Homo sapiens: one gene and its partners. The protein of the gene in region 1 purifies or fractionates together with the protein of each later gene. This does not show direct contact. Each region holds a gene or a part of one and is shown in the gene's direction. Other genes may lie near its edges.

Evidence for each region.
Region 2: the proteins of RTN3 (region 1) and RTN1 purify together in Homo sapiens (affinity purification with mass spectrometry; one large-scale study listed by BioGRID and IntAct). This does not show direct contact.
Region 3: the proteins of RTN3 (region 1) and ESYT2 purify together in Homo sapiens (affinity purification with mass spectrometry; one large-scale study listed by BioGRID and IntAct). This does not show direct contact.
Region 4: the proteins of RTN3 (region 1) and TMEM68 purify together in Homo sapiens (affinity purification with mass spectrometry; one large-scale study listed by BioGRID and IntAct). This does not show direct contact.
Region 5: the proteins of RTN3 (region 1) and SNX19 purify together in Homo sapiens (affinity purification with mass spectrometry; one large-scale study listed by BioGRID and IntAct). This does not show direct contact.
Region 6: the proteins of RTN3 (region 1) and BACE1 purify together in Homo sapiens (affinity purification with western blotting; one study listed by BioGRID and IntAct). This does not show direct contact.
Region 7: the proteins of RTN3 (region 1) and MMP15 purify together in Homo sapiens (affinity purification with mass spectrometry; one large-scale study listed by BioGRID and IntAct). This does not show direct contact.

The regions. Positions count from the first base shown.
Region 1 is NC_000011.10:63,683,940-63,688,416, forward strand, and holds part of RTN3 (reticulon-3), read left to right. Parts: intron 1-4,477. UniProt on the Homo sapiens protein: May be involved in membrane trafficking in the early secretory pathway. Inhibits BACE1 activity and amyloid precursor protein processing. May induce caspase-8 cascade and apoptosis.
Region 2 is NC_000014.9:59,594,897-59,599,020, reverse strand, and holds the end of RTN1 (reticulon-1), read left to right. Parts: intron 1-2,233; coding exon 2,234-2,276; 3' UTR 2,277-3,038; downstream 3,039-4,124. UniProt on the Homo sapiens protein: Inhibits amyloid precursor protein processing, probably by blocking BACE1 activity.
Region 3 is NC_000007.14:158,738,580-158,743,056, reverse strand, and holds part of ESYT2 (extended synaptotagmin-2), read left to right. Parts: intron 1-1,160; coding exon 1,161-1,534; intron 1,535-3,935; coding exon 3,936-4,034; intron 4,035-4,477. UniProt on the Homo sapiens protein: Tethers the endoplasmic reticulum to the cell membrane and promotes the formation of appositions between the endoplasmic reticulum and the cell membrane. Binds glycerophospholipids in a barrel-like domain and may play a role in cellular lipid transport.
Region 4 is NC_000008.11:55,762,918-55,767,394, reverse strand, and holds part of TMEM68 (DGAT1/2-independent enzyme synthesizing storage lipids), read left to right. Parts: intron 1-3,414; 5' UTR 3,415-3,459; intron 3,460-4,366; 5' UTR 4,367-4,435; coding exon 4,436-4,477. UniProt on the Homo sapiens protein: Catalytic subunit of the alternative triglyceride biosynthesis pathway, which mediates formation of triacylglycerol from diacylglycerol and membrane phospholipids.
Region 5 is NC_000011.10:130,898,813-130,903,289, reverse strand, and holds part of SNX19 (sorting nexin-19), read left to right. Parts: coding exon 1-35; intron 36-1,444; coding exon of another isoform or gene 1,445-1,514; exon of another isoform or gene 1,515-4,477. UniProt on the Homo sapiens protein: Plays a role in intracellular vesicle trafficking and exocytosis. May play a role in maintaining insulin-containing dense core vesicles in pancreatic beta-cells and in preventing their degradation. May play a role in insulin secretion.
Region 6 is NC_000011.10:117,305,846-117,310,322, reverse strand, and holds part of BACE1 (beta-secretase 1 isoform A preproprotein), read left to right. Parts: intron 1-4,477. UniProt on the Homo sapiens protein: Responsible for the proteolytic processing of the amyloid precursor protein (APP).
Region 7 is NC_000016.10:58,034,777-58,039,253, forward strand, and holds part of MMP15 (matrix metalloproteinase-15 preproprotein), read left to right. Parts: intron 1-2,695; coding exon 2,696-2,844; intron 2,845-3,489; coding exon 3,490-3,618; intron 3,619-4,477. UniProt on the Homo sapiens protein: Endopeptidase that degrades various components of the extracellular matrix. May activate progelatinase A.

The DNA.
Region 1 (4,477 bases):
TTTCTTTTTTTTTTTTTTTTTTTTTTTTTTTTTAGACAAGGTCTTGCTCTGTCACAGACTGGAGTGCAGTGGAGCCATCTTGGCTCACTGCAACCTCCATCTCCGGGGTTCAAATGATTCTCATGCTTCAGCCACCCGAGTAGCTGGAATTACAGGCGTGTGCCACCACGCGTGGTTAATTTTCTTTTGGTTTTTTTTTTTTTTTTTTTTTTTTTGGTTTTTTTTTTGAGACGGAGTCTCGCTTTGTCGCCCAGGCTGGAGTGCAGTGGTGCGATCTCAGCTCACTGCAACCTCCATCTCCCAGGTTCATGCCATTCTCCTGCCTCAGCTTCCCAGTAGCTGGGACTACAGGTGCCCACCACCATGCCCGGCTAATTTTTTGTATTTTTAGTAGAAACAGGGTTTCACAGTGTTAGCCAGGATGGTCTTGATCTCCTGACCTCGTGATCCGCCCACCTCGGCCTCCCAAAATGCTGGGAATACAGGCATGAGCCACCACACACGGCCCACACCTGGTTAATTTTTATATCTTTGGTAGAGATGGGGTTTTGCCATGTTGGCCAGGCTGGTCTCAAACTCCTGGCCTCATGTGATCTGCCCTCCTCGGCCTCCCAAAGTGCTGGGATTACAGATGGGAGCCACTGTGACCAGCTTTACCCATTATTTCTTAGTAAAATTTTATTACAGAATTTGTATTTCTTAGATGTGCTGTAGACACGTATCACTATTAGCACTTAAAACAGTGATATATAGTAGTACTTGGTAAGTATTTGTTGAATAAATTATCAAATTTACGAGCTAGAAAGGCACACTTGAGAAATAAACTAAAGAGAAACTCTTTTTGGAGTCTCGCTCTGTAGCCCAGGCTGGAGTGCAGTGGTGTGATCTTGGCTCACTGCAACCTCTGTCTCCTGGGCTCAAACCATTCTCCCACCTTAGCCTCCTGAGTAGGTGGGATTACAGACATGCACCACCACGCCCAGATAATTTTTGTACTTTTACTAGATATGGGGTTTTGCCATGTTGGCCAGGCTGGTCTTGAACTCCTGACCTCAAGTGATCCGCCCACCTCGGCCTCCCAAGGTGTTGGGATTACAGGCATGAGCCACTGAGCCCAGCCAAGAGACTCTTATCTTAAATGCTTATCCATTGCAAATGTGCATTCATATTGTCTAAAAAGCACTAATACAGTTTTGGTGGGCCCAATGCAAGATCCTCATTTGTTGGGTCACTACTTGAACATAAAAGTTTACCTTAAGATACTGCAGTGTGGGGCCAGGCACGCTTGCTCACTCCTGTAATCCCAACACTTTGGGAGGCTGAGGTGGTTGGATCACCTGAGGTCAGGAGTTAGAGACCAGCCTGAACAACATGGTGGAACCCTGTCTCTACTAAAAAATACAAAAATTAGCCGGGCACAGTGACGGGCACCTGTAGTCTCAGCTACTCGGGAGGCTGAGACAGGAAAATCACTTGAACCCAGGAGGCGGGAGTTGCAGTGAGCTGAGATCACACCATGGCACTCCAGCCTAGGCGACACAGCAAGACTCCATCTCAAAAAAAAAAAAAAGTTACTGCAATGTGTTGTAATCATTTTTATTGCAGAAGCCTTTCCTCCTTGCTGGATGTTTTTCTTCATGTCACAAAGGAAGTGTCTCAGGCTTTTGCACCATGAAAATAAGATGAAGTTTGTTATTCCAAAATTTAACTTATTTAAAATGTAGATGCTAAAAAATTACCTTAATTGTTTAAAAAAAAAATCTGTACGTATTGCTGTCATCCTCCAGCTTCATGTTCTTTCACCAAGCTCCTCTTGGTTTTGGAGACTTGTCTTGATTTTAGTTAAAGAAAAATAAGTGATTGGTTGGTGTCCTACAGAAAACAATTTTGTCTTGACTGACCTGTCCAGTAATTAATTTTAGAAGTATTAGTTACTATATACAGGTCAAGAATGAGTGATGGCACTCTGTACTTTAGTGCCTTAGGTTCTAATGCAGCCAGCAATGTAGTATGCTTAGAGATGGGGATCAGGGGTCAGGATGGCTTCCCAGATTTCTGCCTTTGAAGGAAACTGAAGATATCAGAGGCAAAAATTTGAGGTTGAGGTAAAAGAGACTGAAATATTCAGTGTTCATTTCAGAGCAAGAGTTGCCTTTATTAGGCCTCAAGTATAGAGACACGTCTATCATCTGAACTTTAAAAGTACTTTAATAGTTTACTGATGACACGATGTTGAAATTCTGTAACTTGGCCGGGCACGGTGGCTCACGCCTGTAATCCTAGCACTTTGGGAGGCCGAGGCAGGCGGATCACGAGGTCAGGAGATCGAGATCATCCTGGCTAACATGGTGAAACCCTGTCTCTACTAAAAATACAAAAAATTAGCCGGGCGTGGTGGCGGGGCGCCTGTAGTCCCAGCTACTCGGGAGGCTGAGGCAGGAGAATGGCGTGAACCCAGGAGGCGGAGCTTGCAGTGAGCCTAGATTGCACCACTGCACTCCGGCCTGGGGGACAGAGCGAGACTCCGTCTCAAAAAAAAAAAAAAAAAAAAGAACAAATTCTATACTTGCTAGAGACTGCTTTTTATTGTTGTTATGAAAGTTGGCTGAGTCTGGTGGCTCACACCTGTAATCCCAGCACTTTGGGAGGCTGAGGTGGGTGGCTTGCTTGAGCTCACGAGTTTGAGACCAGCCTGGACAATAGTGGTGAAACCCCATCTCTACAAAAAGACAAAAAAGCAAGAATTAGCTGAGCATGGTGATGTGCGCCTGTGGTCCCAGCCACTTAGGAGACTGAGGTAGGAGGATGGCTTGAGCTGGGGGCAGAGGTTGCAGTGAGCTGAGATTGTGCCATTGCACTCCAGCCTGGGTGACTGAGCCAGAACTTGTCTTAAAAAAAAGAAAAGAAAAGGAAAAAAGAAAATCATGATGCCAAAATAAAACTACATTTTATATGTTTGTTCATGGAAATTAGCTCAAAGCAAAAACAGCTTGGGCAATTTTTTGAAAAAGGTTTTGCTTTAAATATTTCTTTCCTCACTCATGAAACTTAGTTGTTCTGTGTACTTTTTATGGCTTCATTTTCACACTTTGTTCTACCATATTAATCAAATGTGAATATGTAATTTGTGTTTTGAGTTAACCCTTAAATAAAAAGGAATGTGGCCCCCGTCCAACACTGACATCATCTGAGTGTTACATTCGTGTCAGATTATCAGTGGCAGTGTAATGTGTTAAAACACAGACTTGAGCTCCAGGAATGCCTAGATTTCAATCCTGGCCCTGTCTCTTAATAATTATGTGATCTTGTGCAAGTCCTGAGCCTCAGTTTCCTTAACTTGAAAATTGGGATAATAGTATCTATCTTGGAGTTGGTATGAAAATTAAACACAATTTGGCTGGGCACGGTGGCCCACGCCTGTAATCACAGCACTTTGGGAGGCCAAGGCGGGTGGATCATCTGAGGTCAAGAGTTCGAGACCAGCCTGGCCAACATGGTGAAACCCTGCCTCTATTAAAGATACAAAAAATTAGCTGGGTGTAATCCTGTAATCCCAGCTACTCAGGAGGCTGAGGCAGGAGAATCACTTGAACCCAGGAGGTGGAGGTTGCAGTGAGCCAAGATAGCGCCATTGCACTCCAGCCTGAGCAACAGGGTGAGACTCCATCTAAAAAAAAAAAAAAAGTGAACACATTTATAGGGCTTAACACAGTGTCTTGCCTGTAGTAAATAACTGTACCATTAATGTGAAGAAATGAAATATAGATCAACAATGTGACCTAGACACATTTGCTTTGTACCCTTAAATCCTGACCTTTATTAAATAACAATACCTAATGTTTGACATCCATTTGTAGGTTACAAACTACTTGCACATATTAATAGATACCACATAGCAGTTCAAGTACAAATGAGAAATCTGTCTTCCTCACAATCAAAGACTATTGTTATGCCTTTTTTCCCTTTCCACATGTGAGTCAGTTGTTTCAGTTTGTGGCCCTTCACATTAATGTCATAAAGCTGCCACCCGCTTCCACTGAGGTGGTCTGTTAAAGAGGTAGAGGGAGGAGTCAAGATGTTTCCCAGAAGGCTTGGCATGAATCAATATGCTTAAATACTTATGCAGATTCTGACTAATAAATGTTGTTATGATACATTAGGAAACCCCTTTCAGCACAGAGGCAAGCATACAGGAGACAGCAAGAATGGTCATGTCAATATGGCCTGCAAATGCCTGCTGACTTGGATTGTTTTTATTCTCCAAGAATAAGAAGTGTGTTTTGCTTTTTTTTTTTTTTTTTTGAGACGGAGTCTCGCTCTGTCGCCCAGGCGGGAGTGCAGTGGTGCGATCTCAGCTCACTGCAACCTCCATCTCCCAGGTTCATGCCATTCTCCTGCCTCAGCTTCCCAGTAGCTGGGACTACAGGTGCCCACCACCACGCCTGGCTAATTTTTTGTGTTTTTAGTAGAGACAGGG
Region 2 (4,124 bases), on another chromosome or scaffold:
TATATTCCATATTGGCCATCCCATATCTGTGTTCAATTTCAGGGTTGGACATTTTAACAGATGCATTAATACATTGGAGTAATGCCACAAAGATGACCAGGGTACTGTGGTATTAGAAATCTGATAGTAATGGGCAGTGAAGAGCAAACTTTGCTGGGGATGATTACCCTGGAAAATAGATGACTTTAAAAGGACACCATAGCCATTCTCAAATACTTGGAGGTCTAACATTGCTAAAGGAGTAGGATTTCCCTTTTTCTCTCAAGAGCAGTGAATGGAAATTTTAGAAGTTCTGAGATTTGAATGAAATATGAGGGAAAAGAGTAATGATTAGAGTTGCTCAATAATAGAACCATCTGCCCCATGAAGGAGTGAGTACCCTGACATTCATTCAAGTATTCAAATAGAAGTTAGATGGTCACCATTGCACATGTCCTCTGCTGGCACCTCTTCCTCTTGTCCAACTCCCTTCTGGTCCTGTGACCCTAAAGGTTATCTCATGTCTAGGGCTGCAAACTTGTGTCTCCAGCCCAGACCTCTTCAACTAAGCACCAGGTCTATCCACTTATTTATGTAAGGTTTCTCTAAAGTGTCTGATAGACCTTTCAGATTCACTTAGCCACACATCGTGCAATCTCACCCCAGAACTTGTATTTCCTTCAGTTATCACAATCTTGGTAAATGGCATTTTCACCTGGTTCCTCAGGCTAAAAACCAAAGAATCTTCCTTGATTACTCTTCTTCTAATCCTAGCCTATGCATTCAGTTTATCAACAGATCAAGTGGGTCCTGCAGCCTCATCTCTAAACTAACCCTGAGACTGTTCCCCTCTCTTCATTTCCATGTCTACCATACAATCCAGGCATTGCCTTCGGGTACTTGGACTGCTGTGGGTTTCTCTCCCTCTGTTCATTGCTTCTACTCTCATTTCCCAATTTTTTTTTTACACAGCCACCATCATGATCTTCTTACAACATTAATCAGATCACGTCACTCCCCTGCCTAAATTCATCAATGGTTTCCCATCACACAGGGTAGAATCTAAACTCCTCACCGCATCCCACAAACTCCAACACCCACCATCTGGTCCCTGCCTGCCTTTCAGACCTCCCCTGTCCATACCCCAAGCAAACGGGCTTCTCATCTCCTTGCCGCCAGCTTGTCCTCTCTGTGATGCCTCTGCACTCATTACTCCCTCTGCCTGAAACACTTCACATCCAGATCTTTGCCTGATGGTCCCTTCCTGTCCTCTGAGGATCAGTTTCTCAGATGAGTGGATTTAAAAGAGGTGGTACACACCTTACCACTGTGCCCCTCACTGCCTGCCATACCACCTTGTTTTTCTTTATAGCAGTTATCACCATCTAAACTTCTCTTGTCTTCTAGTTTATTTCTGTCTCCTCAATTCCTACAGGAATGAAAACTCCATGAGAGCAAGCATCTCCTCCCTTTTGTTGACCACTGAATTCCAGTACATGGAAGGGTACCTCATGGCACAGAGGGAGGTCTCAATCAAAATCTGCACGATAAGCTCATAAATCTTCAAATTAACAAAACACTTCCAGTGTAAACCTGTCCGAAAATCATGCTGCTACATTGTGAGCATCACAGAATTTCAGGACCCTGGAGATATCTAGTCTATGCCCACATTTTAATGAGTATTTAGGACCAGAAAAGTCCCTTAGCTTGCCGGATGCCACACAGCTAATTAATAGAATAGCTGAGACTAGGACCCAGCTTTTTAAATTCCAGTTGTGGGTAATTAGACTACTCTGAGGGTGAACATAGGTTCCTTTTCCTATGTCCAACATAGGAACAGATTATATCCCTAGTTATATAACCATCCCTACTTATGCTCATCTTCCTGGCATAGTCAGTAATAGCACTTTCTCTCTCTTTCTGAAGTGTCCCAGATGGGGGATAAATAATCACCCTAACTATATCACAGTTTCTGTAATCCTGAAATAAGTCAATATGTTCCTCCACCTAAAAAGATCTAAAAAATGTGGCTTTCTTCCAATTCTCTTTTTTGTTGCTGTTATTTTCATTATCCAGTTTTTACTTCCTTCTTATTGCTTTATAGAAGAGTATTTGCAGATGTACTTACATAAAGACTATAATATCTTCTGGAATATTAAGTTCTTTGGTCACTTAGCTAATTAAAGCAACAACACATAAAATGATTTCATTAATAACACTTGTGATTTACTACCTTTTGATACTGTCTTTTTAGGATTCAGGCTAAAATCCCAGGCGCTAAGAGGCATGCTGAGTAAACTGATTTCCCACCGGGGACTGGACACAAACAGGAATGTCTGGAGTGGTAACAGCTCTCTTCTTACTCATTACTGCAAATTGATTGTCTTTCCCCCCTCCCTCCAGTACCATAATCTTAGAGACAAACCTTAAAACAGCTGTTTTTAGGCTGTTCCTTGTACTCTTAGGATATTTGAGTCACTTGTGTCAACCACTAAAGTATAGAGAAAAGTGTATTAGATGTGGTTTTTAATTTTGTGTTGCTAAAAAAAGTGCATGATGGTGAGAGCCCAAGTTATCTTTCCCTCTTCGGTGTTCTTCTTCTCTTCTCTGCAATGCTTCTGTAGCTTCTAATGTTCCCCGTGGCTAGGCCTTTCCTGCCGAGTGCTCTGATGCAATAGTGGAAATCGCTTATATGTCCTTGGGTTGCTGGTTGGATTAATCTTTAATAACAATATATAGAATTGTAGACTGATGTTTTAGCATTTTTCCAACACACACAACGTAAAAATAAAAGCAGTCGACCGCACTTATGGTAATCAGTTTTGTATAACTTAAAATAATTAAATAAATGAATAAATCCAAAACAAACATGCAGTACTTTTGTTGTATGGGATTGGTGGGCTGATTTACATGTATGGTTACTAAAAAGTACCAGCATGTTAACTTTATTACAATTTGTATTACTTTCTCTGTAGTTCCTAATGGATTCAATTACGGACTCTGGATATTTGCACTTATGTACTTGATACTGAATGCATAAATAAATGTTACTAAATGTAGAATGTTCTCCCTCTCTTCTCATGCATGGTCTTACCAGAAAACACAAAAGCTCGAAGTGATGAAGTCACTCGATGACATTCTAGGAGGGCTGAGAGCAAATGCTCACCTTATTTCTCTCTAGGACTGTGGAGTCAAACTGCAACCTGGCTTACGGTTTTTCTGGGTCATTAATAGAAAACTGAAAAGTGGTAAACTGTCAATCACTCTTCATATTGTACTCTGTCAGGTGGATGCAGATATTTAAGATAGTTTTTAAAAACTTGAAAGTGATATAAATTCTTACATAAACTGTACGGCAATATGCAACAAAACACTGGCAAAAACAATTGTAATTGCCATGAACTCACCGTTTTAGTAATTACTTATTAAGCACTGACTGTGTGCCAAGCACTTAGAATAGGGCTGTGAATAAGAAAGATGACAATTCCTGCCCTCACCATGTGAAGTCTTCTAATAATTCCTCACTGCTTTTTATACAAGTCCAATTGCATATTTTGTTTCACTGCTACAATCAAACATCAAAGACGAAGAGGTAGAAGTGAATGAAAGGAGTAGCAGTTGGAGAAAAAAAGGAATGATTGCTTATAAAAAGCTGCCTTTTACCAGTTTTACACCTGGGTTCAGTGAATATTTGTGGAGTTATCCTTCTATACAAAGTGGCGTGAAGGTTACAAGGGTCACTTGGCACTGTGCCAACAGCCAGAAACTCTCATCACTGTGCTGGGGAAAGGGCAGGTGGCTATGTGGAAATGCCAACTGAGCAAAGGGTAGCATAAAACAAGAGCCATTGGCAGGGCGCGGTGGCTCACGCCTGTAACCCCAGCACTTTGGGAGGCTGAGGCAGGAGGATCACGAGGTCAGGAGTTCAAGACCAGCCTGATCAACATGGTGAAACCCTGTCTCTACTAAAAATACAAAAATTAGCTGGGTGTGGTGGCACCTGCCTGTAATCCCAGCTACTTAGGAGGCTGAGGCAGGAGAATCGCTTGAAACTGGGAGGCGGAGGTTGCAGTGAGCTGACATCACACCACTGCACTCCAGCCTGGGCAACAGAGCGAGACTTTGTCTCCAAAAAAAAAAAAACG
Region 3 (4,477 bases), on another chromosome or scaffold:
TGAAAGTAAAACTGGCAAACATATGGGGAAATACTAAAACTCATGAATCAAAGAAATGCAAATTAAAATAAAGAGCCAGCTTTTTAAGAAAATTACAAATGTCTTCTATTGAGGGGGCAATGGGAACAGCCTCCTTGCCCCGGCAGAGACTGGAGGTGTCGCACACCTCTCCAGAGGGAGCTGCGACAACCCTGAGCCACTCATCTGAAGGCTCCTTGGCCTTTCTTCTAGAAACCTGACTTTTGTTTTGGTGATACAAAGTGTGGGGAGACCAGGAACATAAAGATGTTCACCGCAGCGTTATTTCCTAAAACCAGAAAAAACCTTTAAGCTGTCACGTGAGTGGAGTGATTTACAAGGTGTGGACTCTGCTCAAGCCAGCCCAGGGACCAGCTCATGTGCTCACACAACTGGGAGACCCCAGGCCCTGCGGGAACCCCCTGCTCCTGCACTCATGTCAGGTTGTTGGGGTGATCTTGCTGGATAGCAGGGGTTCTGGACTTTCTTCCTCCCTCTGGGGACGCCGGGTGGAAACCCCTTATGTAGAATACGGGCTTTGGTCTTGTGTCGAGGAAATGCGACTCTGGGCTCTTGATGTAAAAACATTGTCCCACAATTGTGTAGAAATACATGGAAACGGAAGAGACTAGAGGAATACGCAGAAGTGTTATGGGGGGCTCCTTGCCTGAGACGTGGCCTGGGGAGGATGGAGGAGCTTCTGCCCAGGTTGTGTGGCACCAGAGGGTCAGCTTCAGGGGGGTGGCCTGCCCTTCCACACCAGGCTTATCACTGCCACCGCCCTGTTGCTGCCACCAGAGCCTGAAGACGCAGGCCTCGGCGATGCCCCAGCTACTTGGCAGGCTGAGGCGGGAGGATCTCTTGAGGCCAGGAGCTTGTGGTGTAGTGCGCGATGGTCACCCCTGTGAAGAGCTACAGCACTCTGGCCTGTGCAGCTTAGCAGGTCCTCATCTCTGGGAAAAAAGTGGTATTTGTATCACAGAAGTGACATTTTGGTTACCTAAACTTTCCTTTAAAAAAAAATTTTTTTTTGAGCTAAGTTTTAAAGAAATTTTTGCAGGTAAAGACATCCCAGGCTGTTCCAGTATTAGGATGTTACCAGTGTCACCAAGTTTAATTTTTATGTTTATGTCCACCTCTAGGTGCTCCATCTCGAAAAGCGAGAAAGGCCTCCAGACCACCAACACTCAGCTCAAGTCAAACGTCCCTCTGTGTCCAAAGAGGGGAGGAAAACATCCATCAAATCTCATATGTCTGGGTCTCCAGGCCCTGGTGGCAGCAACACAGCTCCATCCACACCAGTCATTGGGGGCAGTGATAAGCCTGGTATGGAAGAAAAGGCCCAGCCCCCTGAGGCCGGCCCTCAGGGGCTGCACGACCTGGGCAGAAGCTCCTCCAGCCTCCTGGCCTCCCCAGGCCACATCTCAGTCAAGGAGCCGACCCCCAGCATCGCCTCGGACATCTCGCTGCCCATCGCCACCCAGGAGCTGCGGCAAAGGCTGAGGCAGCTGGAAAAGTAACTAAGTGCCACCATGTTGTTTCTCACCAGCAGAGCAAGCGCCCCCCACCCCACGCTGGGGGAGAGTCGTTTAACGCAGCAGAGCATGAGGCCGGCATGCTTTGGGGAGGGAGGCCTAATCTTAGGTTAACTGAAAGCACTTCAGGTTGTGTTGCCGTTTTGCTCACTGCATCTCGGACTTTGGAAATAAAACCTGCCATTTTCTAGGATTTAGTCATTAAAGATTAGAACGTGATGGAGTAATAGGTTTCACAGTAGGAAAGACAGGAGGCAGCGCCGGGACGCTGCTGTGTGCCTGGGCCTCTGCCAGGAAGACAGACGCAGAGCTGGCCCGCGGGCCTCGCTGCGGCCACTGGAGAAGCCCTGGCCTCCCCGTTGTGTGAGGACAGACCTGCTCTTTCACGTAGTTGGATCCCATCCCTGTTGCTCAGTCTCTTTTGTTTGTCTTCGGATGTCTGTGTTGGCTCCTTATTTAAGCCCCATGACTCATAGGTGTGTGTTAAGGGTTTCTTTAGATACGGAGGAAAAAGTTGTCTGTAGTTATCACAAGCTTCAGATGTTAACCTTTTCCTCTTGGTGGAAGAAACAAAATTGACCTTTGAAATAGTTCTCCCTGTGTGGTGTTATAAGAGGTGTGTTGAATAATAAGAAAATAGTAACAGAAACGGAGGCAAAGGTGCTTCTGAGCTGTTAGAAAAAGCACACGCAGACTGTGGAGCTTGCACAGCCGCCCTCCTCTGAGCCACACTCACTTTTTTCTTTCATGCTTTCTCATGTCCACTATTTTGGAAAGAAGAAAACATTCCTTCTCTCTTGCTCCAGAAGGAAATAGAATTTTAAACAAGGAAACACTTTTTCTCAGGAGCTCAATTTGGGAAGTAGAAATGATCTTAGGGGCCACTGAACAAACAAGACCAGTTGTCATTTTGGGGGTCTGTGTTCCATCCTTGAGCAGAGAGAAATGGAAGGAAGGGCGCTGCAGTCTCATCAGATGGGAAGAGAGCACGTGGCTTGCATGAGGCTTTGAGACGGGACATGCAAATTCGGGTAGGACAGGCTAGAAACTGCTTAACAAGGACCACAGGGCTGATGCTTGTAATAAGGACACTGTGTGGTTTTAACCTCGGGTGCTCAATTGGTGAATCATAAGATCTGCACATTTAGAAAGGAGACTATTCCTTATCCTTATAGGGTTGCAGCCTGCAGGCTGGCCAGCCTGACAGGCCCGGAAGCACCTCAGAGGAGGAAGGGTAGGGCAGGAGCTTGTGCGGAGCACGCGTCCTCAGCAGGTTCCAGGAGGAGCTGTGAATGCCGCAGAGTGCCCAGCCTCTCTAGAACAGCCAGCAGCAGTCCGTGGTCAGGGTCTGCCATCAGGAGGAAGTTGTGAAATCAGCCTCTCGTCAGTCAAAGCTGCAGTTAGCGCCGGTGGAGCAGGGGTCACTGAGTCAGCATCTGGATCAGGACAAGCTGGGATTTTGCTTTAACACTGCTGCTCTCGAGGCCAGTGCTTGTTTAGCTGCTGGAGAAAGAAACACCTGGTGGCAGGTAGAACCCAGTTTATTCTGTTAAGCGTTGGGTGTGAGGCTTACCCTTGCCTGGCATGGCCCCAGGTCTTCTTTGTAGCTTGGTATCTTACTGCCGCAAGGAATCTGTTCCTTCAGTCTTAACGATCTCTGCTGCAGCATTAATGCCAGTCGGTTGTTGCATCTGAACTGCGAAGGGGGGGGTATAAATAACCTCCCGTCCTGTTGTGGTCAGGAACTCAGTGTTTAAGTTTCTCTGGGGTCCCCTGGGTCCACTCACATGGGAGTGGGGTGGGGGCTTAGGATTTTACTTTTAGTTTTCAGGACCCTAACTAAAAAACTGTCAGTTGGCTGGACGCGATGGCTCACGCCTGTAATCCCAGCACTTTGGGAGGCCGAGGCAGGTGGATCACCTGAGGTCAGGAATTTGAGACCAGCCTGGCCAACATGGTGAAACCCCATCTCTACTAAAAATACAAAAAATTAGCTGGGCGTGGTGGCGGGCGCCTGTAATCCCAGCTACTCAGGAGGCTGAGGCAGGAGAATCGCTTGAACCCAGGAGGCGGAGGTTACAGTGAGCCAAGATTGCGCCATTGCACTCCAGCCTAGGCAACAAGAGTGAAACTCCGTCTCAAAAAACAAAAACAAAAGAAATAATGTCAGTTTTGAATAATTAATTTATATTGAACCCTCAAGTAAAATATTCATCTGTTTGACTTGTACCCAGAAGTTTCAAATTATGTTTAAGTTCATGGGTAATTTGACTTCTTTTTGTCTAAATGAATAGAAATTATTTTATCGTGTACAGTGGACCAATGAATCACAACGTTCTCCAGTCTCAGGCAAGCTGGTGACTTTCTGCTCTTTTCCCACAGCGGGACGACCCTGGGACAGTCTCCACTGGGGCAGATCCAGCTGACCATCCGGCACAGCTCGCAGAGAAACAAGCTTATCGTGGTCGTGCATGCCTGCAGGTGGGGGCTGGGGTCCCACGCGCCCGCTGCTGTGCTGCTGAGTGTGGATGCTGGATAGGATGATGTAGACACCGCCTTTAGGATTTCCAAACATCCATTTATGTTTCATTTAGAAAGGACAAAGCAATTAAACCTCTAGAGACGGTGCTCGTAAAGGGTGTCACCACTGCGTATGTCACATGACAACGTTTTGGTCACCGAAGTACAACGGTCCCCTAAGATCATACTGTATTTTTACTGTACCTTTTATGTGTTTAAATACACAAATATGGCTTGGCATGGTGGCTCACGCCTGTAATCCCAGCACTTTGGGAGGCTGAGGTGGGCAGATCACCTGAGGTCTGGAGTTCGAGACCAGCCTGACCAAAATGGAGAAACCCTGTCTCTACTAAAAATACAAACTAGCCACGTGTGGTGGTGCATGCCTGTAATCCCAGCTACTA
Region 4 (4,477 bases), on another chromosome or scaffold:
TCTTCCTGCAACTCTTATTTTTTCACAAGCAAGCGAATAATAATGATGATAGCAATAGTTAATGCTTATATGTGATAAGCATTAACTATGCTTAGATGCTTATAAGCAATAGTTAATGCTTATAAGTGAATAATAATGATGATAGCAATAGTTAATGCTTATATGGTAGAAAGCACTCTTCTAAGAGTTTTTTTACACGTAATCTTCACGATAGTCTTATTAGGTAGATGCTATTTTTATTTTACAAATGAAGAAACTGAGGCAGAAAGATATTTAAGTACTTGCTAGGTTTTTTTACACGTAATCTTCACGATAGTCTTATTAGGTAGATGCTATTTTTATTTTACAAATGAAGAAACTGAGGCAGAAAGATATTTAAGTACTTGCTAGGTCACATGGTAAGTGGCAGAGCCTCCCAGGATACAAACTCAGGTTGCCAAAACACCATATAATTATCTCAGATTCTACGTCAATTTATTAGCAAATCCTGTTGGCATTATCTTCAAAATATATCCAGAAACTGACCATTTCCTACTGCCTTCCCTCTGCCACATGTATGTAAGCCACTTTCATCACTTATTGCAAATATTCCTATTTGCTGCCTGTGTAGTATATTCTCAACACAGCAGCCACTTAAAACCCAAGCCAGGCAACCTCACCCTTCTGCTCAGTGCCCTCTGATGCCTTCTCCATCTCACTTAGATAAAAGCGTGCATAGAGGCCGGGCACGGTGGCTCATGCCTGTAATCCCAGCACTTTGGGAGGCCGAGGCGGGCGGATCACAAGTTCAGGAGATCGAGACCATCCTGGCTAACATGGTGAAACCCTGTCTCTACTGAAAATACAAAAAATTAGCCGGGCGTGGTGGCGGGCACCTTTAGTCCCAACTACTCGGGAGGCTGAGGCAGGAGAATGGTGTGAACCCGGGAGGCGGAGATTGCAGTGAGTGGAGATCACGCCACTGCACTCCAGCCTGGGCAACAGAGCCAGACTCCATCTCAAAAAAAAAAAAAAAAAAAAAGCGTGCATAGAAAGCTCTACAGTGTTGCCTCTCTGGTCCATTTCCAAGTGCCCTCCCTGTCACTTTCTCAGCCTGGCATCCTTGCTGCTCCTCAGGCCACACCAAGTGCACATATTTTGCACTTGCTGTTCATTTAGCTAGGAAGTTTGCTTCCTTCCTTCCTCCCTCAGGTTTCTGCTGAAAAATATCTTTTAGAGAAGTCTTCCCAGAATGCCTTATATAACATAGCAACCTCCTCCTTTCCCCTACTCCCGTGCCTGACATAGAACTCCATATTCTTCTTACACTGCTGTTTATCTTTCTCCCTAGCACCTGTCATCATCTGACCTAGCATGTATTTACTAGTTCTTTGTTTACTGTCTATCTTCCCCCTCTAGGATGTAAGTCACTTGAGGTTGTAGACTTTGCTTTATTTGCTGCTGAGGAAATGGGTGGTACATATTAGGGTACATAGGTGCTAAATAGGTCTTTATAGAATGATTTATCATCTTCATTTTCAGAGAAACAATGAGACACAGAGAGGTGTAACTTGCTTAAGATTGTAAAGCCAGTATTCCAGTATGTTCAGTCTGGCTCCTAAGCCCATTCATGTCATCCACTGTGTTCCCGAAACAGACTGAAAGGATAGGCTATGTCTTAGCCCACCTCATGAAAGTTAATAAGCAGATGAGATGTATAATCTTTGCTGGGCTCAAAAAGGTTTTTTTCAAGTGTAGTTTGTAGAGATGTAGAAAATAGTAGCATATTTTTAGCTGAATGAGTCAGTATGATCGAGTTACCAAAAAAGCTGCTGTGATTCTATGAATGATAGCGATAGCAAACATGTAACACTGATTACATGTAAGGTATTCTAGGCTCTTTACACAGATTAGCCCATGTAATCACAGTAATCTCATGAGGTAGTTAGGATTATTATCCTAGTTTTATAGGTTTTAGCAAACGGAGGCACAGGGGTTACCGTACATGGTGTTGTCAGTATCAGATAACTGGAGTCAGCAACTCGGAGTGGTCTTGAGTGCTGAAAGCTTAAGAAACCAGGGGCTGAGAAGTAGTTGAAAGAATTAAGGATTCTGACTGGAGAAGGAATTTTGTGGCTCATGGCAGCTGTTTTTAAACTTACAAGGTTGTTTAATGGAAGAGGGTCTGTGGTACAAAACTAGGTCCAGTAGGGAAAAGTTACGGGGAAGTTAAGTATAAGGAAGACCTTTTTAGTAGTTCTGATGGATGGTTGCTATGTTGCATTCTAAATGATCAAACATGGGTAAATTATAGTGATTTGACTTTTTTTATTTTTATTTTTTGAGACGGAGTTTCACTCTTGTTGTCCAGGCTGGAGTGCAATGGTGCAATCTCGGCTCGCTGCAACCTCCGCCTCCCAGGTTCAAGCGTTTCTCCTGCCTCAGCCTCCCGAGTAGCTGGGACTACAGGCGTGCACCACCACTCCCAGCTAATTTTATATTTTTAGTAGAGATGGAGTTTCACCATGTTGGTCAGGCTGGTCTCAAACCCCCGACCTCAGGTGATCCACCTGCCTTGGCCTCCCAAAGTGCTGGGATTACAAGAGTGAGCCACTGCGCCCAGCTGGTGATTTGACTTTTTATATGGATTGATTAGATGATGATGTAAATAAAGCCCAAGTTGTGGGCTCAATGTTTGCTATGTTCATCTCCTGTAACCATAACAGACCAGATTTCTCACAAGTAAATGCTATTGGTTACAAGGAAGTTAGATGAAATGTTTCATTCCTGGGAGAACAAGTCAGTGCCTGCCCTCCTAATAAGCCAGTTAGCAAGATAATCTTAGAATAAAAACAATACATTTTTCTTATATGTACATCTCCTCCTCTCCTTTCATCCTTTGCTTTCATTTATTCATTTTTTGCCTCAGCTACAAAGGACTTGAGATAATTTTCAGTAAGATTATATAGTATGGAATAATGATAAAATAGTTCTAAGAATACAATCAAAGTATGGAGAAAGGAAATCTTTTGTAGGAAAATATTATCATAGGGCTAATATAATTGTATAATTGAATGTTATGTTTCACCTTCAGGTTATCTGGCAAAGTTACTAAAAAGAATCATAGTCAGTTATATATCTTCATACTTTTTCTCCTAAGAAACAAAGCTTTTGAAAACTTTGTTTAAAATAAATTCTTAGGTGGGGCTCTATATAGTGGCACTAAACAGTGTAGAGTTGTCTTCACCAAAGCAATGGTAGCATGAGTGTACTTTTTAATTGTAATATACCAGTGTGGGCCTATAATCATATTTCTTAAACATTTATGAATGTCTCTTGCTGTTTATTTTATAGAAATGCTAACTCTAGGTATTAATGATTATCTTTTTTTTTCTTAGTAATTTATTTCTTACATTTGTTTACTGTGCTTTCCAGAATAGAGACATTGAAGTTTGGGACAAGATATTTATCTAACTTCTGGTAAGTCCAATGACTGTTTTAGAGAGTGAATTTGTAAAATAATTATACAGCTATATTTTCAGTCATTTAAGATTTAAGATAAAAACAGTACTGATAAATTTTTATTGCATAATGAACTTTTGTAAATCTGTTTCTCTATAAAAAAACAATATCCATTAATGTATGTAATCATTTCGTAAAGAATTGGGTTACTTTTACTGAATTAGGTAGATATTGATGTTTTCTTTTGTGCAGAGTTATCTCAATATGGCTGGGCATGGTGGCTGATGCCTGTAATCTCAGCACTTTGGGAGGCTGAGGTGGGTGGACCACTTGAGGTCAGGAGTTTGGGACCAGCCTGGCCAACATAGTGAAACCCTGTCTCTACTAAAAATACAAAAATTAGCCAGGCATGGTGGCACATGCCTGTAGTCCCAGCTGCTCGGGATGCTGAGGCAGGAGGATTACCTGAACCTGGGAGGCAGAGGTTTCAGTGACTGAGATCGTGCCACTGTACTCCAGCCCGAGCAAAAGGGTGAGACTCCATCTCAAAGAAGAAAAAAAAATTATCTCAATGTGACCTGGTTTAAGATCTAATTTTTCAACATGATCCAATTAAGATGTGAGTCAAATTATTAAAATCAATCTGAAATTATATTCCTCATCAGCTTTATTTTCTTCTCTTAATTATAGCTTTATTTTCTTCTCTCAATTATAGTGAATTATTTCAAAAGCTAAACACGACATACTTCATGAGCAGACAGATGAAACCTTATAATTTTCACATTTAAATCTGCAACAAAGTTAACCATTAACCATCTACTCATTTTGGGTATTAAGAAATGACTCTATATGCTATTTAAGTAGAGTAAAACATTTAACTTTATAGCTGTGGAGAAAATAATACTGGATTATTTTTCCCTTCTAGTGTCAAAATTAGCGACCTGCTATGGCAATGAAGAAAGAAACTGAATTTGTCATTTTCACCTGAAGAAAAATGATAGACAAAAATCAAACCTGTGGTGTAGGACAGGATTCT
Region 5 (4,477 bases), about 67 Mb from region 1:
TTTCTTCGTCTTATCTTTGGGACCCTAGTTCAAAGGTAAGACTGCTGAATTCTCCCTCACATCAGAATCTCAAGTTGCAGAGAAGGTGGATGTGATGCTGAATAGTGTCCAGGGAATCTGCAGCCGTAAGAGAAGATAGATTCTCTGTTACAGGGGTTACAGGGATGAAAAATGCCTTGAGAGTATCAGAAAGCTTTTATTGACTACCTTGTTGTCTACAATTTGAAAGTAAGACTGTAAGACTTCTGGCATAATGTACTGAGTTGCAGACACTGTGTGTGATCCTAAAATACTTAGCTGAACTCTTCCTCCTCTCAATTTTCCACCCAGTTATATCCTCCAGCCCTGCACCTCTCACTTGGTTATGGTGGACATTTGTCTCAACTGACATTATGTCATCACTGTGATGATAAACAGTGGGAAAGAAAAGGAGAAAACAGATCAGTGCTCTTGAAATAAAGATTGTTTTCTCTGAGAGGGGCATAAATATTCACAGCTGAAATACTTACTGACACAGGATGGTAAAGAATAGAGGGAAATTTGGATTTGCAAGTTGGCTTTTCTAATCCAGTCTTTGTAATCCTCACACCATTTGATCTCCTGAAAGATTTGTACACAGGTGGAGTTTTTAGCTGCTGACTTTCTAACTATGGAACTGATGTAAGCTTTGTTAACCTGAAGTAGGCCAGAAACACTCTCTCTGAGCCAGGCAGACACACGTAGTGCTTGGGTTTTGGCTACTCTTGTTTTGAACTCCCTCTTATGAGACGTCCTGGCACATCCCAAAGTAAGAGGAAGCCAAATGCTGACCTTCTCTTAGCATGAGGCTCATGCTAACAGGTCACTCAAAAAATACATCCTTATAAAAAAGAATTATGTATCTATTCTTTACCAAGTCGAAAAGTTATTAACAGCAAGCAATTAAATCTCCCTTTTCTAAGTTATGTAGGATCAAGGAGGTTTAATAAAATTGAATCATAAAGAGACCAAGTGAAAGAAGATGATGCACATCTATATTTGCTAAGCGCTTATCTATGCCAGCGCCCAATCTCCATTTACATGTACTTTTTTATAGTGGTCAAGTGAGGTAGGTAGCCCCATTTTACAGAATGAGAAAATAGAGCTTGGCAAAGTCAACTAACATGCCCAAGGTCGTCATTAGTAGCACACTTAGAATTTTAAACCAGATTTGTACAACTTCAAAGCCAATGTGCTTTTTTCATGTATCTTGTAGCCTTAAGACTGATGTCCAAGTGAAACCTACATATAAAATGCTGACTGGTCTTTGTCCCTTTAAGCTTTTCCCCTTGTTCCTACTCAGTATTCAGCCCTGCCACTAGAGTGCCTTTTTCTGAAAAACAAATCTGAACATATATTCTGCACTTAAAATCTTTCAGTAGTATCCTATTACCTACAAAAGTGGTTTTTCCATTATGTTTCCTAGAGTTCTAGGGTTCTGCAGAAGTGCTTCTGAAGCCAACTTAGAAGCTCAGGGAAAACTGAGTGGACCATGACCCAACCACAGAAGTTACACTTTGATCAGTTTAATATACTGGGGCTCTAGGTAACGCTTTGTTTGAAAAGGGGCTCCACTCTGTTTAAAATATGCATTTATTTCTTTATATTAAAATTCCACCTCCTTTCTTACTTGGCATGATCTGGTTTCAGTCTTATTTTTCATTTTCCACCGTGTAAACGTCCATCATTGCCTGAATATTCTGTGGTCTTTTACCCCCAGGCCTTTGCTCATCTTCCTGTATCTGCCTTCGAATGGTCTTTCTCTACCTGTTATTTCCCTGTTCCTTCCATGTGTTCCTAACTTTTCCTCTTCTTGTCTGCTTGGCCTACTGCAAAACATTTTTCATATATTAAGCATAAAATGTCATTTATTCTGTGAAACCTTCTGTAGCATCTGCTCTCTTTCCCCGAGAATTAAGGAGTCCTCTTCTCTAACTTGCAAAGTTTTGATAATAATACTTGTCACAGTGTGTTTATATAAATGATCTGCTTTTCCTACACTAGTGGTTGTCAACTGGGGTACACTTTTGTCCCCCAGGGGACACTTGCCATTATCTGGAGATATTTTTTGTTGTCACAACTGGGAAGGAGATGTGGGATGCCTACTGGCATCTAGTGGATGTAGGCCAAGGATGCTGCTAAACATCCTGCAGCTACACAGGACAGTCCACCATGCCAAACAACGTGAATTATCCTGCCCAAAATATCAGTGTTACCAAGCTTGAGAAATGCTGTGTAGACTATTAGTTCTTTAAGGACCGGAACTAGCTTTGTCTCCCCAGCAGCTTATACAGGGCCTGGACATAGTAGGTACTCATTAAATATTGAATAAAGAAATAAACATTTCCCTTCCCAGTACCTTTACACTTGAAAGTATAGTCTCTTTAGTTTTATTCTGTCACCTCTGGATGTCACTAATTAGGCCTTCATTTCTCTTCTTCTTTTTTTGGACTTCCCTTTGCTAATCTTCTAAGTGGTTTAAAAAAACAAAATGAGAAGATCCCAAAACTAGCTAGTGTGTGATCTAATATGACCCCTTCTCCTTGAGGTCATTTACATGACAGATTGGTTTCAGAACACGAGAAATTATTCAGTATGAGGATAAAAGTATAGATGAGTTAGGAGAAATTCAAAAAAGATTGAGATCCTTATATAAAAGGGGTAGGAAAAAGTTGACCTGAAGTTTGAATAACTCAGAGTGCTCAAGGGTTTGGGCTAGTCCAGATAAAGGAGAAATACCTATATTCTGGGAGTTAGAGAATGATCACAGAAGTACTTTTTCATGTGGCCGGGGCCCTGGGAGATCTAAGGCAGAAAAGTTAAATACGAGCGAAGCAAGCTCCAGCTGCGTGGCAGACATGGAAAAGACAGGGCTCATTTTAGAGTTCAGAGCAGAGGCTGTGAGACTTCTTTCTTTTTCATTTTTCATATATTGAGGATAAAATGTCAATATATGAAATATCAGTGAGATGGGATTTCATTCTGTCGCCCAGGCTGGAGTGCAGTGGCACTGCAATCATAGCTCACTGTAACCTCCTGGGCTCAAGCCATCCTCCCACCTCAGCCTCCCAGGTAGCTAGGACTACAGGCACACACCACCGTGCTTGGCTAATTTTTTAAATTTTTTGGTTGAGATGGGGTCTCACTATGTTGCCCAGGCAAGTTCCTCACCTTTCCATTCCTGTCCCTGACACTCCCCAACTACAACCACAACTCCAGTGAGCTGGGTAAAGTCTGGTGAATGCAGACTAGCAAAACCCAAATGTAGCTCATGCCATAAAGGAAATGAGGGAGAGGGCTTACAGCTGAATTTCCCTAGACTTTCTCCTCTTTTCACATTCTGACTTTTTGTTTTTTGGTTTTGTCTTATTCTGTTTTATGGAAAAGCATCACTATTGTGATGGGAAAAGTGGGAAAACTCTGAATATATTTGGTGAATTTGAATGAAGCCACTGTGAATATTGGGCAAGAACAGCATTTTGCGGCTAGTTACTTTTGAAAAACTTGTTGTAACTATGGCCTGTTATCTTTGGTTCATTGTACATATTTCCAGGTGAAGATGTTTTATACATGTTCAGTTACCTCATATCCCTTCCTGTCAACAAGTTCTTATATCTAAGAATACAACTTTATCCTTAGCCCATTTGGTTTTGTATTAGCTGCAATGAAAATAGGACCACATCTGGTTAGCAGTCTCCTCACCCAAGCTTCCACAGACTAGAATTAAATGAAGAATCTCATACTTCTCTGTTTGAGGCCATTCATGTATCCCTACAAATCATTTTTCCCATCTTTTTAATGACATTTTTGGCCCTCTTCTGAAGTACCTTATAGCTGGTTTCACAGTTTTCCTGAAGCCTCCTTAAGATAGGAAGCTAGAAGTCATGATATCTAAAGAAAGAACCGGTTCTTCCACTAGAGCTTCCAAAGATCTGGCACTGGTGGCCCATGGTCTCATACCTGGAAGCACCCTGTGCATTATAGACATGGAGCTAACACATTTTAGCATTCAGAGTGTAAACGTTGATAATCTCGTCAGCATCAGCACATTTGCTGTCCAGCAAATGTTTATCGAGAGTTGACTTAGTGCAAATACTGTACTGAACACTGTATGCACATGCTGTTCAAAAGCCACAGTTACTTTTGCACCAACTTAATACCATTTAATTCCTCCAAGTCCTGCGAAAGCGGTACTATGACCCTCATTTTAAAGACAAGGAAACTAAGGTTTACAAAGAATGTGGGTTATCTAGTCAAAATCACAGGGTTAATAAATATCACAAGCAGAATTTGAACCCAGGTTTTTCTGATTTATAGCTGTGATGATTGTCTAAATTTCAGGATCAGATCTTTGCCCTGCAATTCAGCAGGATAAAAGCCAACCCAAAAATCTCTGTCTCCAAGTACTGGAGATTATCAGGCAGTTTGTAGAATCCAAACTGCATCTCCGTATCTACAC
Region 6 (4,477 bases), about 54 Mb from region 1:
ATTGAGTGAATGAATACATAAGCTGCAAGCCTCTAAACAGAACTGTTGACAGGCAGTTGTAAATGCAGAACTGTAGCTCTTAGAGAAAGTATTTTTATTCTTTTAAACGAAAGGGCCAGGTTCAGCAGCTCACGCCTGTAATCCCAGCACTCAGGTGAGGCCGAGGCGGGTGGATCACCTGAGGCTGGGAATTGGAGACCAGCCTGCCCAACATGGTGAAACCCCATCTCTACTAAAAATTCAAAAATTAGCCAGGTGTGGTGCTGCATGCCTGTAAACCCAGCTACTCAGGAGGCTGAGGCAGGAGAATCGCTTGAGCCCGTGAGGTGGAGGTTGCAGTGAGCCGAGATTGCGCCACTGCACTCCAGCCTGGGTGACAGAGTGAGACCCTGTCTCTAAATAAATAATAAATAAATAAAAGGATGTTATCTCATTTTGATATTATGAGCATCACTGACCAAACATAGGATAATAAGGTAACTGTTAGGAGTGAAATTTGGTGATAGTCAATTCAGTTTAACAGATATTTGTTGAGTACTTGCCTACTGTGTGTAGAAGAGAAAAATAATGCCATAGTCTTAGCCCTTGGACAGCTCACAATCTGATGTGAGACATAGACATAATACCTAAATATTACACAAAACCAAATGCATTTGGTACAAATAGTGAAACAGTGGATCTTGGAAGTGCACAGAGAGAAGCAGCTACTTCTGACATGGTATTAGGCACAGCTTGCTGGAAAAGGAGGGTTTTGTTTTGTTTTTGTTTTTGAGAGGGAGTCTCGCCCAGGGATCCACCCGCCTCAGCCTCCCAAAGTGCTGGGATTATAGGCGTGAGCCACCGCGCCCAGCCAAAACGGAGGTATTTGAAAGAGGAGAAAGCTTTGCAATATGGAGAGTGGTGAGGAGGAGCACTTCATGAAGAAAAGCGTGAACTGTGGTGAGAAGCCAGAAGGCATGGTGGGGATGCCATGGGGCTGACAGGACTTTGGGTTTTATTCTGCAAACAGTAAGGAATCCTTGTAGGTATACGAGAAGAGGGATGATATCGTCTAATTTTAGTTCCAGGAAAACAGCTTCAGTGTGCAGAATAACTTGGAGAGTCTAGCATCATGACTCTAGACATGCAAACAAGGATCTCAGGATACGGGGGCCTGAAAGAGGATGGTGGCAGTGAGGGTAGAAAGGAGGAATCAGCATTCATCCATCGTTTAACCAGTTATTCTCTGCGCTTGATGAGATGTATGGGGTGAGAGAGAGGGAAGAGGAGATGATGGCTTTATTTAACCTCTCTGACTTTTTGTCAGGGAACAAAGCAACAGGGGAAAGCTTTTGAAGCACAATATAGTTTTTTTGTTTGTTTGTTTGTTTTGAGATGGAGTTTCGCTGTGTCACCCAGGCTGGAGTGCAGTGGCGCGATCTCAGCTCACTGCAACCTCCACCTCCTGGTTCAAGTGATTCTCCTGCCTCAGCTTCTCAAGTAGCTGGGATTACAGGTGCCCGCCACCACCCCCAGCTATTTTTTTTGGTATTTTTAGTAGAGATGGGGGTTTCACCATGTTGGCCAGGCTGGTTTCAAACTCCTGACCTCAAGTGACCGCCCGCCTCAGCCTCCCAAAGTCTTAGGATTACAGGTATGAGCCACCGCACCCAGCCAGGAAGTACAATATAGTTTACCAAAGTTTATGTTTATTATTCTGCTTTAATTATAAGGGATAGGTATTAGCATATCTATTTCAGGGATAAGGAAACTGAGACCCAGAGAGACTAAGTGTCTTGTCCAAAGTGATTCTGTTAAGAAGAACAGAGTAGGGGTTCAAATACCGGGGCCTTTCCTTCCTGTGTTCTACGATCTGGGACATGCCTTTGAGATGCTAGTGGGTCATCCTCGTGGAAGTATTCAGCCACCAGCTGACAGTGGGAATCTGGAGAGAAGTTAGAACTGGACAGGCAGACAGGACTCATCCACAGAGAGGCCAAGTTAAAAAATAGACTTGTTCTTTGAGGGAACAGAGAGGGAAAGGAGAAAAATGATTAGGAAAAGAATATTAGGTATAGACAAGGGAGCAAGAGAAAATGATCAGAGCAGTAGAAAACTATGAGGGCTCAGAGTCTCAGAAACCAAGAAGGACCAGGTGGTTTTTCTTTTTTTCCTCTCCTTCCCTGCTTGGCAGGGTTCTGTAAAGGGACCTCAGCGGTGAGGGAGAAGGCTGGGAGCAGTCAACACTCTAGATCCCCGCCCTTCCTGTCACCAAGCCATCCCCATCCCCCCGCCCCAAATCTCCTGAGCATCCCAGGATAACTTTGCTTTTATTGTTTTTATACAGTGGACTTCTGGGTTATATTTTTTTAAAAAAGAGTTTTTGCAATAAAAAGGTTGAAAACCATCGAGCTCAAAGAACCACCCTCCAAATTAGACAAAGCCAGCAAGACCCCGGCTCCATAAGTTGCCTACCCAGTCCCTGCCACCACAACTGGCTTTCCTGGATTGGGCCTCGGGTTGCACACAAGCCCTTGCTGGAGCACTCATCCTGTCATTCCAAACCTCTCCTCTACTCCCCAGACCAGTAAAGAAGAGTTTAGCTGGGAGTGAGGGGGCATTGAGAAAGACTGTGCTCTCTCTAAAAGCACTAAGGTGGAAGGTCAGGAACCCTTCTTGGGCCTCTCCAATAAAGGGCTGGGCAGAAAATTCCAGTTGAAAATCCAGAAAGAGGCCAGGCACAGTGGCTCACACCTGTAATCCCAGCACTTTGGGAGGCCGAGGCAGGCAGATCACCTGAGGTCAGGAGTTCAAGACCAGCATGGCCAACGTGGTGAAACCCTGTCTCTACCAAAAATACAAAAATTAGCTGGGCATGGTGGCACGTGCCTGTAATCCCAGCTAATCAGGAGGCTGAGGCAGGAGAATCGCTTGAACCCAGGAGGCGGAGGTTGCAGTGAGCCAACATCATGCCACTGCACTCCAGCCTGGGCGACAGGGGGAAGACTCCATCTCAAAAAAAGAAAATCCAGGAAGAGAAACACCTCCCAGGGAAGCCCCCATACCTAATGACTAACTTCTGTCTCTCCTGGGAGCCTTCTCTTTCAGGTGCCTGGGCAGGGGAGAGTTCTGGGAAGGAACCAGAACATTTTCTGAGTTCTGGAGCTGCCCTGAGATTCTCCTGGCAGGATGCGACAGCACCTGAGTACATCCTTAGTACCGCAGCCTTGGGTACTATAGCCAGGTGTTTCCCAAAATAGGAGAGCTGGGCTGTGCTGGGGAGAATGAGGAAATCAGCAGAACTGGGGGGATTCTGACGTGGGGGAGCTGGGACTCCTAGGTCCTTTTCCTCAAAGCAAACTGGCCAAGCTCTGCCTCCTCCCATGCCAACTTATCCTCTGTCACCATATTTCCTGAGCTGCTGTCACTCTGGGGCCACCCTCTCTGCTGCGCACTGTAGGCTGGGTGTCCTCTTGCTTGGTCTTTCAAGGTCAGTGAATCTCATCACTTAGCCTTTTTTCTTTTTTTTTCTTGAGACAGGGTCTCACTCTGTTGCCCAGGCTGGAGTGCGGTGGCGCGATCTCGGCTCCCTGCAACCTCCACCTCCTGGGTTCAAGCAATTCTCCAGCGTCGGCCTGCCAAGTAGCTAGGACTACGGGCACGCACAACCACACCCGGCTAATTTATATATATATTTTGGTAGAGACGGGGTTTCACTATGTGGCCAGAATGGTCTCAAACTCCTTGACCTCAAGTGATCCGCCCACCTCAGCCTCCCAAAGTGCTGGGACTACAGGCGTGAGTCACTGTGCCTGGCCCTACCACTTACTCTTTTCCAAGGCCTGTGGAGGTTTTGACAGGTAGGACAAGGAGTGAGTTCTAGCATCTCCCAATGGCTTGAATAAACAAGCCCATGTGCTGAGCGTGACACAGGTGCCATGGTCAGCTTCATTTTCAACTGAGGACAGAGCAAGAGAAGATTCAAGCCACTGTAACCTGTGGGTGGGACAAGGTTAAATAACAGGAAGGACTTACTGTCTGACCATGAAAAACAGGTGGCGAATAGCTGCTGTGATACCTTGTGGAGCATGGGTTTTCCAGGTGGGTTCCGCAGAGGCTAAAGGTGCTGAAGAGATGCCTCAAGAGCCAGCACAGGCAGGGGAGGGAAGCAGAGGAAATCAAACCTCCCCTTCAAACAGAACACCTCTGTCTTTTTCTCTCTTGTACACTAGGATCCTGCATACAATTGGAAAAGGGGAAAAGGATTCCGCTGCTTTATTTTTTATTTTTATTTATTTATTTATTTTTGAGACGGAGTCTCACTCTGTCGCCCAGGCTGGAGTGCAGTGGTGCGATCTGGGCTCACTGCAAGCTCCGCCTCCTGGGTTCACGCCATTCTCCTGCTTCAGCCTCCCAAGTAGCTGGGACTACAGGCGCCTGCCATCACGCCCGGCTAATTTTTTGTATTTTTTAGTGGAGACGGGGTTTCACCGTGTTA
Region 7 (4,477 bases), on another chromosome or scaffold:
CTGTGTGGAGGGTCCATAGTGCCCTTGGGACCCTCCTGGCAGCCCCTGAGCTGGCCCCGGGGTTGAAGGGGCCCCTCTGCCGGTCTCTGGAGCTCTTCACTGCAGACAGGCCAGCTCCCTTGCTTTCCTCCCCAGGGCCCCAGCCTGATCCTCCCCCACCCTCCCCTCCTGTCGCTCCGCAGATACCGCTAATCAGCCCCTCCATGGCCCATGATTGCGCTCCCAGAGATATTTTTACCTTATGCAAATAGGTGATGTAGAGGTGCCCTCATCTGCCGGCAGCCAGTCCCCCGCCACTCCCCCGGCCTCCAGCTGCATTCCCTTTGCCGTTAGAGCTGGCTGAGCATCATGGCCTCGCCTTCTAGATCTCCCTAAGCACCTTCAGGGAAACTGTCCTTTAAGGATGGTGGATCTGCTGCTCCACACCTTCCAGCACAGGAGCCTTGGGAGAGGTTTCCCGTGCTTGGGAAGAACAGGGAGGGTACCCACGACATTGCCAGTATCTTATTGAGCTGTGGGAATGCGCCCTGGGCCAGAGGTGAGGAGTGCTAGTGGAGGGGCCCTAGGGGCCTCCTGCCTCCCTCCACTCTGGGGTCCTGGTGGAGCCTGGCCCATCACCAGTCTTGGGAAGTCCAGACCCATCAGCCTTCTTGGTCAATGATGGGTCAAGGAGGCCGAAGGCTGCCTGCCCCAGGGACAACCACACAGGCCTCTGGTCTCTGTCATTTGCACGTTTGTCGAGCACCATCTGCTGCACAGGGTGGTGTCAGGCACTAGCATGCACTTTACGATTCCTCCTCACAGGAACCCAGGAGATGAGGCAGGTCCTGGTGCAATCCCCCTTTTACTGATGACCGACAGAGATAAGGAGGTGGAGTGACACCTCGGAAATAGCCAAGCCAGGGTCTGCCTAGCTCCACCTGTCCCCAGAGCTGGTGGTGGTTTCTCAGCTCTGCATTTCCACCTCATTGCTCTGGGGCTGTTTCCCGGGTCCTGAGAGGCCTCAAAGCTGTGGCTGCGCATCCAGTCTGCGACCCTGGCAGCTTCTCCATGCTGCCCCTCCTTGGGTCAGCAGCTGCTCCGTCTATTGGCAGCCTGGGTACCACTGAGCTGGCCTGCCCAGCCACACCAGGGACCTGGCCGGGTGCCAGGGCTGGGCTGGTGGATGGTACCAGAAAGCAGGTGCCTGAGGTATTAGATGTAACACTGGTGGCAGGCAGATATGTGAGTGTGATCTGGCCGGCCAATATGGCTGTCAGCCTAAAGCAACCACCGTGTCCAGCTACTGCCCTGCTGCCTGGGCCCTCGGGGTGCAGCCCTCACCTCCCAGAGCACTCAGAGTGCCAGCCTTAAGGGCTTCTCACTCTGGAGACCCCCAGAGACCCAGACAAGTCAGACACAGACACTTGCAGTGTCCAAGGTCCAGGGCAGCCCCTGGCCTCTGCTCACTGCCTCCCATGGCGGTCACCGTGCTCTTGAGGGCTTGAGGACATGAAGCAGGCAGGGCAGAATCCCCTCTCTACCACAGCTCGGCCTGTCTCTGCCCTCTGGCTTGGCCGTGCAACCTGTGGGGTGTGGGTTCCTTGTTTTGTAGGTGTGTTGGGTCTCCCAGGGAGACTGTAAGTTCCTGAAGGCCAGGATGCCTCAGCCTAGTCCTCCCATGGCCCCCAGCTGGCACAGAGGGTGTTGAGAAACATCTGGCAGGGTGGGTGGTGGATGGATGAGAAGACTTGCCAAGCAAGCCCTAGAAAGGGAAGGGCACACCCATTGTGTACCAGCTTTTTCCAAGGCTGTTTTCCTCAAACCTCACCCCTCAGCAGCCCATGGTTCCCCATTCTATAGGTGAGGAAGCTGGGGCCCAGGGAGAATAAAGAGTTTGTAGCAGAGCAGGGACTGGGCTTCAGGCTTCTGTCCTGCCCTTGAGCCTGGATGGGTACCTGCATCTGTCTACTCCTTCCAGGAGATTTAAGGTCTTTGGGGAGCAGTGCCAAAGAGTAAGGCCTCAAGAGGTCCTGAATCCTTTTGGGTCCTTGGCCTGGTAGGGGCCCACCCCAGAGGGGCTAGTGCAGTTGTCAGCTACTGTGGACACAGCTTCTGTCCTAATGGGGGAAGACAAATAGCAAACACCTAATTGAAATGTACAGTGCATCAGATGGGTGATAAGCATGGGAGGAAGGAGGGGGTGCAGGGTATAGCTGATGGGGCCTTTTTAACGTGTCAGAGAAGACCTCTTAGATAAGGTGGTATTGAAACAGCGACCTGAAGAAAATGAGGATGAAAGCCTCTCAGTTGTCTGGCGGGAGAGTGCATCAGGCAGCAGAGGCAGGAAGTGCAAAGGCCCTGCGGCAGGAGCATGCCCGGCTGGGGTGGATGGTGGTGAGGTCCAGCTAAGGTGGGGTGACAGTGAGGGCCTTGTGGCTCTTGTACAAATGGCTTTTCCTTTGCAATGGGAAATCTTCAGAGGGTTCTAAGCAGAGGATTGACCAGACCTGACCTGGCCTTTGTTCTGGCTCTTATGTGAGGAGAGATGACAGGGAGGAGGGTGCTGAGGCTCACACGGTCACCTGGGCAGGAGGTGATGACGGCTCAGATAGAGCAGCGGTGGTGGAGGTGGTGGGAAGTGGTCGGCACAGGCTGTGCATGTTTGGAGGTAGCAGTGCCAGGACCTGCTGACAGAGTTGCGGCTTCTTTGCAGAACTGGCTGCGGCTTTATGGCTACCTGCCTCAGCCCAGCCGCCATATGTCCACCATGCGTTCCGCCCAGATCTTGGCCTCGGCCCTTGCAGAGATGCAGCGCTTCTACGGGATCCCAGTCACCGGTGTGCTCGACGAAGAGACCAAGGAGTGAGTTCCCCCCACCATCCACACCCCACAGGCACCTGCCTTCCATCTGGCCTGCTCTCAAGAGGGCTCAGCATGTGGAGTTTCCAGAAAAGAGTGGCCTAGATAAGAGATGCCAAATGGTTTGGTCCTCCATGTCACTTCTGATTGGTTGGAGTGGCTGCCCAAAGCCTTGTATTGAGAAAGCTCCAGGGGCAGAATCCAGGCCTTAGCAGTAAGAAGCACAGTGATTGATTAGTGATGTCTGACATGGCCAGGGGAGTGTGGAGGTACAGTACAGGAGCTGTGGAAGGGAAATCGTAGCTAGGCATGGCTATGAATCTAACAAGTGACATGACCTAAAGCCATGTCCCTGAAAACAATGCACAGAGCATAACGTATCCAGGACAGAAGGCCTTGAGCGAACCCTCCATTACTGGGTGATAAGGAGAGAAGGGCTCACCTTGACTGAACCACTCCTGGGCACTCAGTCTTCCAATACAGGCATTTTGCCCATTTTACTGGAAGTTGAAGCTGAGAGTCCCCCATCCCCACTGTGTCATAGGAGGGGCGGCTGGGAAGCCCGGAAGTGGCGGAAGTGGCAGTGCCAGAACAGGCAGGTGTGTGGAGGGGAGGCTCCGTGCTCACCCCTCTGTGTCCATGTCCCAGGTGGATGAAGCGGCCCCGCTGTGGGGTGCCAGACCAGTTCGGGGTACGAGTGAAAGCCAACCTGCGGCGGCGTCGGAAGCGCTACGCCCTCACCGGGAGGAAGTGGAACAACCACCATCTGACCTTTAGGTAGGGGGCTCAGCTGCCCAGGGAAGCATCTGCCCCTCGGCAGGCCGAGCCTCAGACCTCCTTTCCCAGAGCCCACCTCGGCGCCCAGCCTTAACAGTCCAGCCCGCTTTCACGCTGATGAGACCAGCCACACACGCCAGGCAGTCTCCCTCGAGGGAAGGTCAGGACACTTCAAGCTACTTCCACCCTGTCCTTCCCCACCCCCCACCTCCCTGCAGGCAGGGGCTGGCCTCACTGGGCACAGCTGGGCTACTGCCCCAGCACAGACTGCAGCAAGGGATGGGGGATGGCTGGGGTGCAGGAATCCAGGCATCCATCAAGTGAACAGGCAGCAAGTCACCTGCAGAATCCTTGGATCAGGGGCCCTCATCCTTTTTGCTGAGTTCTTGAGCAAGAAAACCCTCCAGCCAAGTGTGCCTTGAGCCATGTGGTTGTCCCCAAGGGCTCCCCTTCTTGTTCCAGTCTGGCTCTGTCCTGACTCCAAGCTCCATCTCCCAAGGAAGAGTGGTTCCCATGGTCACTTAGACCTCAAGCCCCCAGAGTGAATTCAAGGTCCAACCAGCTAAAATATTCCCTTCAGGTTTAATGTCTAGCACACAGAGCTGAATCTGATTTATATAGGTAAGAGCAGGCCTCACCATACGTCATCAAATGCAGTCTCTGGCTACAACTTACTTCCTCTAATCCTCACTGGAACCCTGTGAAGAAAGTACCACACACACACTCTTTTCTAACTTAACAGATAAACTGGAAATCGGCCAGGCACAGTGGCTCACACCTGTAATCCCAGCACTTTGGGAGGCCAAAGTGGGTGGATCAGCTGAGGTCGGGAGTTCGAAACCAGCCTGACCAACATGGA